2 linked regions of the Homo sapiens genome follow. The protein of the gene in region 1 purifies or fractionates together with the protein of each later gene. This does not show direct contact. Each region holds a gene or a part of one and is shown in the gene's direction. Other genes may lie near its edges.

The links. The genes of interacting proteins can lie anywhere in the genome.
Region 2: the proteins of DRC3 (region 1) and OFD1 purify together in Homo sapiens (affinity purification with mass spectrometry; one large-scale study listed by BioGRID and IntAct). This does not show direct contact.

What each region holds. Positions count from the first base shown.
Region 1 is NC_000017.11:17,989,862-17,993,361, forward strand, and holds part of DRC3 (dynein regulatory complex subunit 3), read left to right. Parts: intron 1-2,903; coding exon 2,904-3,050; coding exon of another isoform or gene 3,051-3,107; intron 3,108-3,147; exon of another isoform or gene 3,148-3,228; intron 3,229-3,500. UniProt on the Homo sapiens protein: Component of the nexin-dynein regulatory complex (N-DRC) a key regulator of ciliary/flagellar motility which maintains the alignment and integrity of the distal axoneme and regulates microtubule sliding in motile axonemes.
Region 2 is NC_000023.11:13,758,748-13,762,247, forward strand, and holds part of OFD1 (centriole and centriolar satellite protein OFD1), read left to right. Parts: intron 1-1,367; coding exon 1,368-1,973; intron 1,974-2,337; coding exon 2,338-2,464; intron 2,465-3,500. UniProt on the Homo sapiens protein: Component of the centrioles controlling mother and daughter centrioles length. Recruits to the centriole IFT88 and centriole distal appendage-specific proteins including CEP164. Involved in the biogenesis of the cilium, a centriole-associated function.

The sequences.
Region 1 (3,500 bases):
GGACGCTGCCAGCTAAGGTCTCTCATGGCTACAGCTGAAGCCGGAGGTAAGCTGAGCCCCTGCGGCAAACAACAAGGGCATTTAGTGGCGTGATAATTGGCACTGCAAGGAAGGGGTGCTTATCAGCAGAGCTTCAAGGACGTGAGTTCCTTCTGCCTCTGGGCTCTGCCATCCTCAGCATCTCCCCAGAGCTTGATTCTCTTAATGGTTGCAGTCAAGGACACGGGCTTCCTTGTCTGCATCTAGCAGGATGGAGAGAGCAAGAACTCTCCTTCCGACAGTGGCCCTTTAGTCTGATCAAGCCCCCTCAGGGTCTACACTGACCCTCAGCCTAACATCATGGCTGGGTGACGGCCAGGCTGGGCTTACATGAACAGCCTGGGGTGGGAAGCACCGAGTTGTCACTAGCAGTTCCGTTGGGTCAAGCCACAGAGGTGGTGGAGTCTCAGAAGTTTGCCCTGCATGCCAGACAGGCAGCATCCAAACCCATGCATGGTCTTGCATGAATCAGCCCCTGACCTTGTCTCTACTCCCATCTCAACTTCTTCCCAGCCCTCTCCCCGCATTCTGCAGCCACCCTGGCCTTTGCTCAGTGCCTGGCATGTGCCAAGTTCTTTGCTGCCTGGGGCCCTTGCCTGTGCTGTCTTGGCTTCCAGGAATGTGCTCTCCTCTGCTCTTCTGCGGCTGGCTCCCTCAGGTCTCAGATTAAATGTCACCTCCCCAGAGAGACCTCTGAATCTCCTAACTGAAAGAGGCCTCCCTGTTATTTTCTCTCAGGGTGCCATCTTGATGTTCCTTACAGCACTTAACTCAAAGCATAATGGTTTTATTTACTTTTTAAAACATTTGGCCGGGCCCGGTGGTTCACACCTGTAATCCCAGCACTTTGGGAGGCCAAGGTGGGCGACTCACTTGAGGTCAGGAATTCGAGATAAGCTTGGCCAACATGGCGAAACCCGTCTCTACTAAAAATATAAAAATGAGCCGGGTGTGGTGGCGGGTGCCTGTAATCCCAGCTACTCCAGAGGCTGAGACAGAAGAATCGCTTGAACCTGGGAGGTGGAGGTTGCAGTGAGCCGAGATCGCGCCACTGCACTTCAGCCTGGGTGACAAGAGCAAAACTCCATCTAAAAAAAATAATAATAAATTAAAAAGAAAACATTTTTCCCCCACTCCTAAAATATGTGCTCTTGCCATAAGGGCAGGGACCCCACAGGCCTTGTTCCCCACTGTATCTTCATAATTTAGCACATGCCGGAGGCCTGCTAGGTGACTAATAGTGTTTGCTGCTAGGTGACTAATAGTGTTTGCTGCTAGGTGACTAATAAATGACTGAAAGAAATTCACTCAGAAAAGCATGCTAGATTTTTTTTTCTATCTTTTGCATAGTACAGTGTCTAGATGCTATCCAATGAAGTATTGCTTTTTTTTTTTTTTTTTTTTTTTTGAGAAGGAGTCTCGCCCTGTCACCCAGGCTGTAGTGCAGTGGTGCAATCTCGGCTCACTGCAACCTCCGCCTCTTGGGTTCAAGCGATTCTCCTGCCTCAGCCTCCCAAGTAGCTGGGACTATAGGCGCCTGCCACCATGCCCGGCTAATTTTTTTTTTTTGTATTTTTAGTAGAGACGGGGTTTCACCATGTTAGCCAGGATGGTCTCCATCTCCTGACCTCAAGATCCACCTGCCTCAGCCTCCCATAGTGTTGGGATTACAGGCGTGAGCCTTGTACCCGGCCAAAGTATTGCTTTTTTAAAATACTTTTTTGCCAGTACTTTTAATGGCAAAAACCACAGTTACTTTTGCACCAATCTAATATTAACTACCTGGTTAACATTTTCCTCATTTTACTAAAAATAGAGTGTAGGGAGAATAAATAAAGTTACTGGAATGTTCCCCTAGCTGTTATCCAGGGAATCCAAGGTTAGCCATAAGTTGGGTCCCATTTAATTTAAGATATTTGTACCTTCCATGGGGCTTTACAATCTACAAAGGCATGCCTGGCCAGGTGCAGTGGCTCACGCCTGTAATCCCAGCACTTTGGGAGGCTGAGGTGGGAGGATTTATTGTGACCAGGAGCTCGAGACCAGCCTGGTCAACACAGCAAGACCCCATCCCTACTTAAAAACAAAATAGGGCCGGGCGCGGTGGCTCACGCCTGTAATTCCAACCCTTTGGGAGGCCAAGGCTGGTGGATCGCTTGAGCCTAGGAGTTTGAGACCAGCCTGGGCAACATGGCAAAATCCCATCTCTACTACAAACACAAAAATTAGCCAGGTGTGGTGGTGCAGGCCTGTAATCCCAGCTACTCGGGAGGCTGAGGCACGAGAATCACTTGAACCCGGGAGGCAGAGGTTGCAGTGAGCCAAGATCGCACCTCTGCACTCCAGCCTGGGCAACAGAGCAAGACTCCATCTCAAAAAATAAAATTAAGTTAAATTTAAAAGATTTTTAAAAAATAAATAGAAGGGTATGCCTATGCTGGTAACAGCAACTAAAACGCCCATTACCGAATAGGTGTCAGGCACTCTTCCAGTGCTTTTTATAGCTTATTTCACTTGGTCTTTATAACACCTGTAACACACATGATATCCTTATACCCGTTTAACAGATGTGGACGTTGAAGCTCACAGATGTTGGGTAACTTGTTCAAGGTCTCACCACATGGTTCAGCAGACCTGAACCATGGTCTGCTGGTTCTTTGAAAAGCCCATTTCTGACAGAAGGTCTCGGTACTGCTTCCCAGCCTGGAACACCCCCACGCCTGCACACTGCCTGTCACCCCACCCCAGTGCTGATGGTGCTGTGGCCAGGCTGACTCTGAAAGAGTACTGAGGAGGGAGGTGCAGCTGTGTTTTCAACTCTGTGGCAGCCAAGAAAATGGGCCTTTCTCCCTTTTTCTCCCCAGATCATCTACCTCCGGCGGTTCAAGTGCCTGCGGACGCTCAGCCTCTCTAGGAACCCTATCTCTGAGGCAGAGGATTACAAGATGTTCATCTGTGCCTACCTTCCTGACCTCATGTACCTGGACTACCGGCGCATTGATGACCACACAGCAAGTGTCTCCCTCTCAGTCTCCCAGCCCTGTGAGACAGATTCCTCAAGCCCCCAGGTTTCTTGGAAAAGGGGCATTGAAGAGTAGCTTCCCCTGCCCACAACTAGGAGAGAAAGGGCAGCTCCCTCTTCCTAATCCCTTTACCTGACTCTGTCAGAGTGATTCCAGCAGCACCCTTGTAAGTACTGTTTTGTGTGCGTTCCCAGGGGCCAGGCCTCTTCCACACACTGTCCCAGGGCCACCTCACAGCCATCCTGCACTGTCTAGTTTTCCAGATGAAGAAGCTGAGGAGGGCTGGGAGCAGTGGCTCACGCCTGTAATCCCAGCACTTTGAGAGGCTGAGGCGGGAGGATCGCTTGAGCCAAGGAGTTCAAGACCAGCCTGGGCAACATAGGGAGACCCCATCTCTACAGAAACTACCAAAATTAGCCAGGTGTGGTGGCACACACC
Region 2 (3,500 bases), on another chromosome or scaffold:
GTTACCCCAATGTTAACACCAATTCAGTAGTTTTACGGATTCCTTGATAGATATATAAATATACAGGACAAGCAGGGTGGTTTAGCAAAAAGAATATTGCCTTCAGAATCAGAACTGTTCTTCTTTTGGACCCGTTTTGAAGTTGTTTGACCTTGGGCATGTTACTTTAACTTCCTTGGGCCTCAGTCTCCTCATTTGTAATGGGGATAATAATACCTACTGAGCCATGATGAAAAAGATGAAATGGGTTTCAGTCCAGTGCCTGGGACATAAAAGACACTCAGGAAATGGTTATTGGTATCATTTTATTATTGTGTCTTCACTGTGGATGCATCTCTGCCCCTTCCTACTTCGTAAGAAGGATATTAAAGTTCAGATACTTTATTCTTCAGTTGCTTTCAAGTTCAAAGAAAGTACGTATGTGTTACCAGTTCAACTGGGTCTGAGCCTTCCTTGTTCCCACCTGCATTGTTTCCTCATCAGCTCCTTGCTCTCTTCTACCAGCACTTGTTTTATTTTTATCTCTACTCGTTTCTGCTTTTTTCTGTTCCTCATTTTCTTTCAGTTCTGTTTGTGAAACTTCTCACAGCTGAAATCATAGCAGTCTCCTATCAATAAAAAATAGTTGAATGAGGATAGAACTCTTTCGCATGCATGTGTTGCCGAGGGCAAGCTTCTTTCTTGTAGCATCACGGGGAGGCATTGCAGGAGAGAGGGGCAGGTGCACTGGCTTTGCATTAGGAAAGCCCAGTAGCTCTTAGACTTGCTAACCGTGTGACCCAGCCTCAGTAAGCTTTAGTCCCCCCATCTGTAAAATGGGAGCAGTGAGAGTTTCTTGACCACAGTGTTGTTGTGAATGCAGGTCCTCACTTCCTTATATGAAACTCGGGCCATATGCTGTGGATTTCGCAATAGCCCTGGGAGTTCTGAACAGCATCCTATAGTAAAGCACATTAATTATTTTGCAGTCAACTGTATGAATATTCATGCTGGGATAAATAAAGATTATAAATGGGTTTACATCAGTTCAGGTCAAACTTTTCAACCAAATGAGTTCAAGTCTGGTTGGGCTTTGCCACCAAATAAATTATGAATAAATTTTCAGTTCTCAGAGCCTTGTGGCTTTCAAAATTGTGCATAATGGATTCTGAAATTATATCATGTTACAAAAGACATACAAAGCTGTAGCTGGTACAATAAGCTCTCAGTAAATGTTAGTGGTTATCGTTACCATGGCTTCAGAAACTGTATAGTGCAAGTTTGTCCTTATTACTCTCTTCCATTTTTCAAAAAAATAATATTCTCAAGTATATTTTCTTCTCTGCCTTGTCCACTTACTTCTGAAATTGGCTTTTTGTACCCTGCAGCCCTAGAGAATGAAGTGTACTGCAATCCAAAGCAGTCTGTGATCGATCGTTCTGTCAATGGATTAATAAATGGCAATGTGGTGCCTTGCAATGGTGAGATAAGTGGGGATTTCTTGAACAATCCTTTTAAACAGGAAAACGTTCTAGCACGTATGGTTGCATCAAGGATCACAAATTATCCAACTGCATGGGTGGAGGGTAGTTCCCCTGATTCTGACCTTGAGTTTGTAGCCAATACTAAGGCAAGGGTCAAAGAGCTTCAGCAAGAGGCCGAACGCTTGGAAAAGGCTTTCAGAAGTTACCATCGGAGAGTCATTAAAAACTCTGCCAAAAGCCCACTAGCAGCAAAGAGCCCACCATCTCTGCACTTGCTGGAAGCCTTCAAAAACATTACTTCCAGTTCCCCGGAAAGACATATTTTTGGAGAGGACAGAGTTGTCTCTGAGCAGCCTCAAGTGGGCACACTTGAAGAAAGGAATGACGTCGTGGAAGCACTGACAGGCAGTGCAGCCTCGAGGCTCCGCGGGGGCACTTCCTCCAGACGCCTCTCTTCCACACCCCTTCCAAAAGCAAAAAGAAGCCTCGAAAGTGAAATGTATCTGGAAGGTAAGCCACCCGCACAAAGGGTTGCGGGGTGCTCTGGAGTTGGGTAGCCACCCTGCCCACGACACAGGGTTGCCGTGAGGGTCAGCGGGCCAGAGTGGCAAGGTCTAGTGTTTGGCACACAGAGCTGTTTAGAGAGTGATAGTTGCCTTGCCTTTGCTGCCTGTTGGTTTCCTGCATTTTATTATTGCCACTGCAATTTAATTTAGGTGCTTGAATCATTAGTTTTCTGGATCTTATGCATCATAATTGGCTATTTGTGAGGATAACAGTTTATTTTCAAACTAGTAGAGCTCTTTAGAAACCACGTTGGTATCTTCTCCGTGCAATTGGTAATATTCTTGCCTTGGTTCTTTCTGCACCTTAGGTCTGGGCAGATCACACATTGCTTCCCCCAGTCCTTGTCCTGACAGAATGCCCCTACCATCACCCACTGAGTCTAGGCACAGCCTCTCCATCCCTCCTGTCTCCAGCCCTCCGGAGCAGAAAGTGGGGTAAGTATAACGTTCTGATTGATTAGCTTCAGCTGAATAATGTTACTTGCTCTGTCAGCCTTCACTTGTTTTACTGGGATTTTTTTTTTTTGAGATAATTATTATAGATCATGTGGCAGTATAGAATTTGCAATCAGATTGCAAAATGATATGTCATCTTTGAGAATCATCTAAATTACCTGGAGGGAAAAAGATTGCTTTTAGCAAATAAGTGGATAATGCTTATTTGCTAAACTTGATATATGGACCATGCAATCTGGTATTAATAAGCATCTTCCTAGTTCTGTGAATAGATTTGGTTTATTAAGATAAAAAACAAATGTACAAAATCTGAAAGCAAACAAATGGAGGTTATTTATAAAGTTGGAACAATTTTACACATCATTAAAAAGTCATTTTTAAAATATTTTGGCATTGAAATATAAACAGATAAGGTTCTGACCTGCATATCATTGAAATAAATTCAAACGTGGTAGCAGGCTCTGGTGTATGATTGTTGAAACAGGAAGGAGTGGATGTTTTTAGAAACTAGTCCACTGGGTCAGCCAGGCTATGATTTGAGTCATGAGCAGACTCCTACCCATACCTGGGCCCCACAGCAGAGGGAACTGACTCCTTAGCTCCAGGCTCGATCTCGGGCATCTGCATGTTAATGTAGTTCTCTGCCACATGGGCCTGTCGTAGTCCTAAAGCTTTTTTTTTTTTTTTTTTTTTTTGTGATAAGCCAAAAGGAAGGATAAGACACACACATATGCTGAGTTAGGGCGCTTTGCTCACTCAAGGTTGTGGTGTTGCATCTTCATCTGGTTCATGCTGATAGTGTGCAGAATTTTTTTTCAGAAATGTTTTATGGTTATTTCCTAGGAATAGCATTCAGAGTACAACATTATTCTTTATTAACAACTGTAGTACCTACTTCACAGCATGAAATAGTTACAAGGAGTAACTGATTAAACAGGTATTAATTGCTGAGAACAATGCCTAGTGGTGGTGGTGAGGTGGAGCTATTTACAAGACAAAGAGAAAGGGAATTTTG